3 linked regions of the Homo sapiens genome follow. The protein of the gene in region 1 interacts with the protein of each later gene in a pairwise test. Each region holds a gene or a part of one and is shown on either strand. Other genes may lie near its edges.

Evidence for each region.
Region 2: the proteins of MAGEB18 (region 1) and GLE1 interact in binary tests that used the Homo sapiens proteins (3 or more experiments, as listed by UniProt).
Region 3: the proteins of MAGEB18 (region 1) and TRIM37 interact in a two-hybrid assay, tested with the Homo sapiens proteins (one large-scale study listed by BioGRID and IntAct).

Annotation. Positions count from the first base shown.
Region 1 is NC_000023.11:26,137,083-26,141,142, forward strand, and holds MAGEB18 (melanoma-associated antigen B18), read left to right. Parts: upstream 1-1,260; 5' UTR 1,261-1,385; intron 1,386-1,841; 5' UTR 1,842-1,903; coding exon 1,904-2,935; 3' UTR 2,936-2,971; intron 2,972-3,097; 3' UTR 3,098-3,654; downstream 3,655-4,060. UniProt on the Homo sapiens protein: May enhance ubiquitin ligase activity of RING-type zinc finger-containing E3 ubiquitin-protein ligases. Proposed to act through recruitment and/or stabilization of the Ubl-conjugating enzyme (E2) at the E3:substrate complex.
Region 2 is NC_000009.12:128,528,719-128,532,218, forward strand, and holds part of GLE1 (mRNA export factor GLE1), read left to right. Parts: exon of another isoform or gene 1-282; intron 283-3,500. UniProt on the Homo sapiens protein: Required for the export of mRNAs containing poly(A) tails from the nucleus into the cytoplasm. May be involved in the terminal step of the mRNA transport through the nuclear pore complex (NPC).
Region 3 is NC_000017.11:59,026,881-59,030,380, reverse strand, and holds part of TRIM37 (E3 ubiquitin-protein ligase TRIM37), read left to right. Parts: intron 1-1,657; coding exon 1,658-1,966; intron 1,967-3,500. UniProt on the Homo sapiens protein: E3 ubiquitin-protein ligase required to prevent centriole reduplication. Probably acts by ubiquitinating positive regulators of centriole reduplication.

The DNA.
Region 1 (4,060 bases):
CCTTTTCAAGAACATGGATGGAACTGGAGGCCATTATTCTTAGCAAACTAAAATAAAAACAGAAAACCAAATACCACATGTTCTCACTTATAAGTGGGAGCTAAATGATGGGAACACATGGACACATATAGCGGAACAATGGATACTGGGGCCTTTTAGAAGGTGGAGGGTGGGAGGAAGGAGAGGGTCAGGAAAAATAACTAATAGGTGCTAGACTTAATACAAGGCTGATAAAATAATCTGTACAACAAACCCCCATGACACGAGTTTACCTATATAACAAACCTACACATATACTCCTGTACTTAAAATAAAGGTTAAAGAAAAAGAAGCCTCAAGGAATCTTGTAAAAACATTTGTGCTACCTCAAGACTTTAAGTCATGAAATTCACTGTGAACTGGATTAGGATCTTACGCGAGGGGCATAAGTAAAGCTTTTCAGAAATTCAAAGCTGACTCAGCCAGTGTAGTAGAAACAAAACAAACATAATATACAAAGCATTAAATTGAAAGTAATGGTTCCAAATAAGGAAAGATCCTAGCTACTTAAGATTTTCTCTGAGAAGTTCTTTTCTGGATTACTTTTAGTGCCTGAATGAAAGATCCTTTGATGTTTCTGTCATCCTCATTTTTCTCCTAATGTACCATCCTGAAAATCTATTTCAATAAATTTGAGAGGGCTTTAAAAATAAAAAAAAATGGAATGAAAAATATACCATTCAAAAGAGCAGCAACATTCAAAATATACCTAAAAAGAACATTCACAAAAACATACACACTCTATCAAAGCAAATATAAAAATGTGTTGATAGACTTAGGTGGATGCCTAAGTACAGCAATACAATATGTTTATATATGGTGAACATAATATTGTACAGATGTCAATTATCTTTATTTACAGATTTAGTGCCTTATTTGATGGCCTCAAGTCAGCAGAGAAGTGGCCCAGCACCTACAAAAAGTCAAGATAAGACACTGAGTGAGGACTGAGGGCATTACCTACCCAAGAAGAGGGACCCCCACAGAGCCCCGCCCCTACTGTCAATCTTGGGAGTCCCCAGGCGTGGCTGCTGGGCTCAGGTTCCACCTTACTTCCTACTCTGGACTCAGGGAAATGATCCTTTTTCTGAGGCTGACTGATTCAGCTTAGCAAAGAGAGAAGTCCCAGTGCCTGCAAAGTCAATGAAAGAAATATATGTATTTCTTTAAGAACTGCCCCTCCCCCGAACGCAGAACCATTTGCCGTTAAGCTGGGAGAGCAAAGTGGGCGTGGCCGGACATGTTTCTCTTGACCTATCTTCCACATCATCAAGCTGTTACGGGCGAAACCTTGGTCTGAAACATGCGGCCAGAGAAATAAATCTCAGGATCCGGCAGGTGTCAAAGTGAGTATCATTTGTTATGACCTTCAAGACACACTCTTCCCAGAACAGAGGCTGCCTCACAGAGACCCATCCTTCTCTGCTCTGTCCTGCTCCCACTTTCAACTCTCTGTGTCCCAAAGCGCAGCTGTTAGGCCTAACACCCTTACTTCCTGTTGGGAATCTGTGGGATGGGAAGCCATGGTCTAAAGCGAGGCAGCCTCAAGTCAACAGACGGAGGACTCAAAAGACTAAAGTAAAATTAATATCCTAAGTTAGAACTGATGTAGTCAGGAGTAAAATTAATATCCTGAGTTAGAACTGATGTGACAACCCCCCACAGAACAGTCCCACCCCGCTCCTGCCTTATGGGTTCCTAAAGCAATACCCTCAAGAGAACCAGGAGAGGTGGCCATTCTTAGACCAAGGTAGAATCTCCCTACCAAGGCTGTGAACACTATCTCATCCTCCGTCTTCTAGGGTGCCCTCTTCATCAATTCAACTGCCTGCACTATTGTCTGTAGTCCCTGACAAGAGTAATTATGCCTCGAGGTCAGAAGAGTAAGCTCCGTGCCCGTGAGAAACGCCACCAGGCTCGTTGTGAGAATCAGGATCTGGGAGCTACGCAGGCCACTGTGGCAGAAGGAGAGTCACCCTCCCCTGCCTATCTTCTCTTTGGTGACAGACCCCAGAATTTGCCTGCTGCTGAGACACCTAGCATCCCTGAAGCGCTTCAGGGAGCCCCATCCACCACCAATGCTATTGCACCTGTTTCATGCAGTTCAAATGAAGGTGCCAGCAGCCAAGATGAGAAAAGTCTAGGTTCCTCAAGGGAAGCTGAGGGCTGGAAAGAAGATCCTTTAAACAAGAAAGTAGTGTCGCTGGTGCATTTCTTGCTTCAGAAGTATGAAACGAAAGAGCCAATTACAAAGGGAGATATGATAAAGTTTGTTATCAGGAAGGATAAGTGTCACTTCAATGAGATCCTCAAGAGAGCCTCTGAGCACATGGAGCTGGCACTTGGTGTTGATTTGAAGGAAGTGGATCCCATCAGGCACTACTATGCCTTTTTCAGCAAATTAGACCTCACCTATGATGAAACAACCAGTGATGAAGAAAAAATTCCCAAGACTGGCCTCCTGATGATTGCACTGGGTGTGATCTTTCTGAATGGCAACCGTGCCCCAGAAGAGGCAGTCTGGGAAATTATGAATATGATGGGTGTATATGCCGATAGGAAGCACTTCCTCTATGGGGATCCCAGGAAGGTCATGACCAAAGATTTGGTGCAGCTAAAGTACCTGGAGTACCAGCAAGTGCCCAACAGTGATCCTCCACGCTATGAATTCCTGTGGGGTCCAAGAGCTCACGCTGAAACTAGCAAGATGAAAGTCCTGGAGTTTGTAGCCAAGATACATGATACCGTCCCTAGTGCCTTCCCATCCTGCTATGAAGAGGCTTTGAGGGATGAGGAACAGAGAACCCAAGCCAGAGCTGCAGCCAGGGCTCATACTGCTGCCATGGCAAATGCACGTTCCAGAACCACGTCTAGCAGCTTCTCCCATGCTAAGTGAAATCTGAGGCTTGTTCTTCACTTTTTGGTCGAAAAGGTCTGTCAACATTCTAATAGTGGAGGGCCATGGTGGGGCTGGAAGAAATAAGTGTATATCATCTTTGCATTCCTATTGTATATTGATAACTCGAGTTTTACTTTTCCATCTTTTTGTTTCCCCTAGGTTACATTTCAAATGTTCAAGTCTGAAGATTGTTTTCTTTGTGGAAGAGAAGAGCAGTCAACATTCTAAGTAGTGAATGGCCAGAGTGCGTCTGGAGGGAACACAGCATATATCATTTTGTGTTAATAGTCTATAGTAACTCGGAGTTGTATCTTTTTCTTTCTTTTTTTTTTGGTGTTATATTTCAAATGTTGTTGCTTATAATAGAAGTTTTAGATAACTTCAGAATCTATATTTATTAATGACTTTGGTTACACACGTATTGCTATTTAAGAGTAGGAGTTTTATTGTTCTGTAAAACAAATTGGGAAACCTTCTTTCATATTTAATGAGCCAGAACAAGGAAACACAGTATTGGAATAGGTATTTCCTTAAAAAATGTGAGATGATTTAGCAGTAAAATTTTGGAGATCAAAACATAGGTGAGAAAAAGTAAACTTTTCAGTTCTTGGTTTTCTTTTTCCATTTTAGTCTGTTATATAAAAATAAAAGTCATACCTGGATTGGCTTAGCTTACTGAAGAAGGTAGGAAGAAATAAAATGTTTATGAACCAGCATCTATGCTTACCGGCTCATTCATTCCTCCAATATTAATCCAACATCTGATTTTTGAAAGTAATTTTGTTAGAAATGGGAAAACCAGGATACAAAACACCCACCTCTGCTTAGACTTTTACAATTAATGAACAGTAATAATGTATGGAAGATGGTGAAATACTTCTAAGACCTAAAGGACAAGTAACAAGAGGGAGTAAGGAGGTAAGGAGTTAGAGAGGGGTTTGGGAAAAGTGCTGAAGTGTATCTGGCTGAAAATGGTAAGGTGCAAATTCTCTGAAGAAAGGCCCTTTTAGACTTTTGGAAACTTTGAGTCTCTCAGTGGGATATACTTTTAATTTAAGCTGGGTGGTGGGCTAGATGAAGCTTTGGGACTGGAGAGCAGAGGCCAGGCACTCAGATGGTGTG
Region 2 (3,500 bases), on another chromosome or scaffold:
CAGGCTTTGCTTCTGTCCTACAACATTAGCTTTTCCAAATTACTCCAAGCTCGCCTTGTTCATCCTCCAGGACTCCTTTTCTCTCCAGAGACTGAGGTTTAGAAAGTGAGAACCAGACAAGGAAGAAACTTCTTTAGAACCAGAGGTTCATTTGTATGGAGCTGTAGATGTGGAAGCCTCCAGATTATAGACTGAGCTGCCAGGTGGCTGGGGAGTGTGTGTGCAACTGGAACACTCCTCTGACGCATCGTGGGTTCCGTTCCCCGACTCACTTCTCATTGCCTGGAAAGCATAGGAAAATTTCAGTTCCTGCCCTTGATAGGCAGTCCAGCAAAACTTACATATGACTTTGCTGCCTGAAATTCTTTCTGGAACAGGGCAAGGTATAAATAAATAAATAACATATCACTTTTTGGAATTTAAAGTGCTGTGTCCTTTGATAGCAACAGCAAAGCAAGAGAGGTTGACTGGACAGCCACTCCACACCTCGATGGCCGTTCCCAGTTCCCCTCTGTTGACTGCAGACAGGGTCAGTACCTCCTTCATCAGGAAAATGGAGACATCCAGTGTGAGCTCCTCAGAGCCCCTCCACCACTGCACAGTGACATTTACCTCTTAGTCTCCTGTGTCACTGGATGAGGCGTCCTTGCTGCTGGGCTTACCCTTCCACCTCTGCCCTTGTTCCCTTTCCTTCCTGTCTCCTGTCAGACTGCCTCATCGTTTATTGCCTTTCCTGTTTTCTGTGATTACTCCTTTTTATAGGCTCCTCTCTCTCAGCCTGTAAATATATGTGAGCCCCTCACATCCTAACATGAGTCTCCCTTGATCCTATGTCTTCTAAGTGTTTGCTGATCTTCCTGAGGTTTCTGTTCGGCACTGTTGCTGCTTTCTCTGTGCAACTCTACTCCTTTGGCCTCCATGGTGCCATTACTTTCCAGGTTCTTCTCCTCCCTCCCTCACTACCCTTTCCTCTCTCTCTCTCCCTCTCTCCCTCTCTCTCTCTCCCCTTTGTGGGTTTCTTAGTCTTCTACCCCACTCTAATTGTAGGTGATTCCTAGGGATCTACTCTTTTTTTTTTTTGAGAGTCTCGCTCTTTCGCCCAGGCTGGAGTGCAGTGGCACTATATCGGCTCAGTGCAAGCTCCACCTCCCGGGTTCACGCCATTCTCCTGCCTCAGCCTCCCGAGTAGCTGGGACTGCAGGCGCCTGCCACCACGCCCGGCTAATTTTTTGTATTTTTAGTAGAGACCAGGTTTCAACGTGTTAGCCAGGATTTCAACGTGTTAGCCAGGATGGTCTCGATCTTCTGACCTCATGATCTGCCCACCTCGGCCTCCCAAAGTGCTGGGATTACAGGCATGAGCCACTGTGCCCGGCTGGGATCTACTCTTATCCTGCAGTTCTTTTCGTTCTCTCTACTTACAGGGCTTCAAACATTACCTGAATGCTGATGACTCCCAAACCTACCTCTGGTTTATTCCTTTCTTCTGAGCTTCAGATTCTCCAGCTTCAGCTACCTGAGGGACATCTCTGCCTATATGTCTCTTAGCTGCCTCAAGTTTAATGTGTTCAAATCCAAACCCATCATCTTCCTTAGCCCTCTTTGTCTGCTGTTTTCTCTTGAGTAATCAGTAGCACCATTATCTACTCAGTAATCTTAGCTGGAAACCTGGGAGTCATCTTTATGACTGCTGCCTCTCTTTCACTCACCACATCGAATTAGTCTATATCTTTGCCTTTTTTAATTTTTCTACACATTTCCTGACTCTCCCTTTGTCTCCATCAAGACTTTAAGTCCTTTAAGATCTTGTAGTCCAGCCAGACACAGAACATGCTCTAGTTAGTGCTCAGTAAGCGTTTAATGAATAGGAGGGAAGGATCACCTAATTCTTCTCTTTTTTAAAAAGGTGGGCCGGGCGCGGTGGTTCACGCCTGTAATCCCAGCACTTTGGGAGGCCGAGCCTGGCGGGTCACCAGGTCAGGAGATCGAGACCATCCTGGCTAACACGGTGAAACCCTGTCTCTACTAAAAATACAAAAAATTAGCTGGGCGTGGTGGCAGGCACCTGTAGTCCTAGCTACTCCGGAGGCTGAGGCAGGAAAATGGCATGAACCCGGGAGGCGGAGCTTGCAGTGCGCCGAGATAGCACCACTGCACTCCGTCCTGGGTGAAAGAGCGAGATTCCGTCTCAAAAAAAAAAAAAAGGTGGGCCGGGCACAGTGGCTCACGCCTGTAATCCTGTAATCCCAGCACTTTGGGAGGCTGAGGCGGGTGGATCACAAGGTCAGGAGTTCGAGATCAGCCTGACCAATATGGAGAAACCCTGTGTCTACTAAAAATACAAAATTAGCTGGGCATGGTGGTGCATGCCTGTAATCCCAGCTACTCAGGAGGCTGAGGCAGGAGGATCTCTTGAACCCAGGAGGCAGAAGTTGCGGTGATCTGAGATCACGCCATTGCACTCCAGTCTGGGCAAAAAGAGCAAAACTCCATCTCAAAAAAAAAAAAAAAAAAAAAGGTGGATGTCAGCTGGGCCCAGTGGCTCACACTTGTAGTCCCAGCACTTTAGGCGGCTGAGGTGGGTGAATCATAGGAGGTCAGGAGTTCAAGACCAGCCTGGCCAATGTGGTGAAACCCCATCTCTACTAAAATACAAATATTAGCCAGATGTGGTGGCAGGCGCCTGTAATCCCAGCTACTCGGGAGGCTGAGGCAGGAAAATCACTTCAACCCAGGAGCGGAGGTTGCAGTAAGCCAAGATCGTGCCATTGTACTCCAGCCTGGGTGACAGAGTGAGACTTCATCTCAAAAAAAAAAAAAAAAGTGGATGTCGCCGGGTGTGGTGGCTCACACCTGTAATCCCAGCATTTTGAGAGGATGAGGCAGACAGATCACTTGAGGTCAGGAGTTTGAGATCAGGCTGGCCAACATGGTGAAACCCCGTGTCTACTAAAAATACAAAAATTAGCCGGGCGTGGTGGCACACACCTGTAGTCCCAGCTACTTGGGAGGCTGAGGTGGAAGAATCACTTGAACCCGGAAGGCAGAGGTTGCAGTGAGGTGACATCGAACCACTGCACTCTAGCCTGGGTGACAGAGTGAGACTCCAGCTCAAAAAAAAAAAAAAAAAAAAAGATGGATGTCCATGAGTGGTTAGAATTAGAAGAAATCTTAAATAAGGACATGATGTTGCTGTGGCATGGGGAGGCCACGTCAGTCTAGGGTTGGAAGCTAACTAACTTTCCTCCTACCTAGAGAGGTATGGAGAGAGGCTAGATGCTAGATGGGGCATTCAGCCAGTGGGGTCCACATGGTTGGCTTTTTTTTTTTTTGATAAGAGAACTGAATGACAGGATATTTCTGAAACTTTTGTGACATTTCTTGAAGTGATTAGGAACTTGACAGGGTATTTCTCAACTGGAGATGCTGTATTAATTAAAACATTGACTTCAGGACTTCAGGTAATGGAAAGTAATTCAGATCTGCTTTGCTTTTTTTTT
Region 3 (3,500 bases), on another chromosome or scaffold:
AATCTCAACACTTGGGGAGGCTGAGGCGGGTGGATCACCTGAGGTCAGGAGTTCGAGACCAGCCTAGCCAACATGGTGAAACCCTGTCTCTACTAAAAATACAAAAAATTAGCCGGCCATTGTGGCAGGTGCCTGTAATCCCAGCTACCTGGGAAGCTGAGGCAGGAGAATGGCTTAAACCTGGGAGTCGGAGGTTGCAGTGAGCCGAGATCGTGCCATTGCACTCCAGCCTGGGCAACGAGTGAAACTCCATGAAAAAAAAAAATGAACTGGAATACAGACAGTTATTTTTCTGGAGGTGATACTGGATAATTAAAACCAAGGGTGTGAGATTGCAAAGGAGTTTTAAGAATATTTTAAAAGAAGAGAGCCAGGAACATAATCCTGATGAATATCTGTTTTTACTGAGTGTCAGGAAGATGAGCCAGATAAAGAGCTTTTAGAAAGGAGAAAAAATACTCATGGAAGCCAAATGAAAATACCTTTCAGTGAAGGGATGTTAATAAAAGCTAGTGTGCAGAAATATATGACTTTCTTTTTATTGAAAAGGCTTGCTTGGGTCATTTTTTGTTTGATTGATTGTTTGTTTGTTTTTGAGACAGAGTCTCACTCTGTTGCCCAGGCTGGAGTGCTCTACAATTTTTTGTAGAGACAGGTTTCACCATGTTGGCCAGGTTTGTCTCAAAACTCCTGAGCTCAAGTGATCCACCTGCCTCGGCCTCCCAAAGTGTGCTGGGATTATAGGCGTGAGCCACTGCACGTGGCCTGCTTGGGCTTTGATGTTTATTTTTTTCTGTGTATTTATTTAACACATATTTAGTGAACATTTGTCAGATTAACTTCATGTTCTTAACCATGTAAAGGAGTACTGTAAAAGGTATCAGGTAATCTAGTTGAACCAGATTTTAAGGTACATATAGTGGTAAGTAGAACTAGAGTCATGTTGGGTCCATTCTATGAAAGGACTTGCATGCTAGCCGGAGGAATTTATTCATACTAGGCATGGAGAGCTATTGTTTTATTTTAGAAGTGGTTAGATTCAAACCGTATTTCAGAAAGCTGACAGTTCTGAGAAAATTATCAGAAATGGAAGTTCTAATAAAAAAATTTTTTTTTGTACAGATAGGGTGTCACTATGCTCCCCTGGCTGATCTTGAACTTCTGGCCTCAAGCGATTCTCTCACCTCAGCCTCCTGAAGTGCTGGGATTACAGGCATAAGCCACTGCACCTGGCCAGAAATATGTATTTTTAATATAATGTTATATATGGCAGATTTGACAAAGTATTTGGTTTCTAGATTTTTCTTTGTCTTTTTTTTCAATTATAAACATAATAAAAGCTCTGTAGAAAGTTTCAGAAAAGTGGAGAAGTTTAAAGAAGAAAGCACAAGGCAGTAGGGCAGCTTTTAAACTTTTAGAATTAAATGTGTAATTCGAACTTGAGTATGATGTGACTCAGATTCTAACTCTGAAGGTGTGAATAAGGTAGGATTCTTTATCTTTATTTTCATTAATGGAATTTAGTGCATGTTTTATTGTTGATACCACGTAAAGCACGCTAGCTTATTTTACACATCAAATTTGCATATATTCATGGTACAAATGATTTCATTAATATTAACGTTTATGTTAACATGACTTGTCAATTTCTCTGAAGCATCATATTCTCGAAAAGATAAAGACCAAAGGAAGCAACAGGCAATGTGGCGAGTGCCCTCTGATTTAAAGATGCTAAAAAGACTCAAAACTCAAATGGCCGAAGTTCGATGTATGAAAACTGATGTAAAGAATACACTTTCAGAAATAAAAAGCAGCAGTGCTGCTTCTGGAGACATGCAGACAAGCCTTTTTTCTGCTGACCAGGCAGCTCTGGCTGCATGTGGAACTGAAAACTCTGGCAGATTGCAGGATTTGGGAATGGAACTCCTGGCAAAGTCATCAGTTGCCAATTGTTACATACGAAACTGTAAGTAATATGTTCCCAGTGTCATTTCTCCACACGTTATTTGGGAAACTAGATGACTGGTTTTTTCAAAAGAATAATATTTAAATACCACTCTTCCAGTGAGTTAAGACTACAAATTACATGTGACTTTTTTCTTCATCCAAAATTGATTCCGTATATTTTTACTATATAATAGAACTAACATTTCTTGATTGCTTACTCTGTATTTGGCAATAAACAAGACAAAATTCTTAACATCATAGATCTTGTATTCTAGTAGTGGGAATCAGACATTAAAAAGTGTAGACAAGTAAGTAAAGATCATTTCAGTGGGTAAAAGGTGCTGTGAAGGAAACAACCGAGGAGTGGGATGGGAGGAGCAGATGAGACATGTTCTATTGGGGTAGTCAGAGAAAGTCTCTGTGAGGAGGCAGCACTTGACCTGAGACCTGAAGTTTAGGAAGGTGGCAGCTATTTATAGATCTAGGGCAAGCAGTGTTCTGGGTAAACAGAACAGAAACTGCAAAGTCACTGACACAGGATTTATTTTGCGTATTTGAAGGATTGAAGGAAGACCAGTATGGCAAAGAAAGCAGAGAGAGGAGACTAGCAGGAGACGAAGTCAGAGAGAGGTAGGCAGAATTTAGATCAGGGAGAGTCTTGCAAAACCTCAAAAAGGAGTTCGAGTTTTATTATGATGTAAGGAGGAAGCCTCTAGAGAATAAAAATAAGGGGTGTTTATAATCTGATTTACACTTTACAAAGATGACTTTGCTTGTTGTGTGGAGAAGGGTCTGAAAAGGGTTGAGGACAGGAATTGTGAGACCAGTAACAGCCTATTACATTATCTTGTGTGAAATATGATGGCATTTTCTGGAGTTACAATAATGGATAGAGGGGCTTGTTCACAGTCTAGCAGCCTTTCTTGACTGAGGTTCCCATCTTTCTTAGTTCTCTTAAGGATGTGCTATTCTATTCTAGATGCATAGGAGGGAAGTTAATCCAGTCTTAGATCAGCAGGGCTGAGTTCTTTCTCAGAACCATAGTTGAAAAAGCCTAAATAGAATTTTAGGAAAGTTCTATTTAGAAAGAAACTAAGAATTATGATTAAGTTTTGGCCTAAGCAACTTAATAGGCAGTGGTATCATTTATTGAGAAGCAAATCAGATAAGAAGCAGGTTATGGGGCTTGGGAGGAGGTAAGGGCAGAAAGTTGGGTATTCTTTTTTAAACATGTTTAATTTGAGACACCTGCTAGATATCCTAGTAAAATGTCATAGACACGTGAATGGTACACAACTTTGAAACTCAGAGAGAGGTCAATGCTGGATATAAACAGTTGGGAGTCAATAGTATTTTATATTATTTAAATCCAGAAGACTGAATAGGGTCAAGTTTGGAGGGAGTTTCAATGGAGAAGCAAAATTTTTGACTCTGTGGCACTTAAACATTTAAAGATCTGATAAATAGGAGAGGCCAGCAAAGGAAATTGAAAGAGCAATCATTAAGGTAGGAGAAAAACTAGAAGGGATAATATCTCAAAAATCAAAAATAAT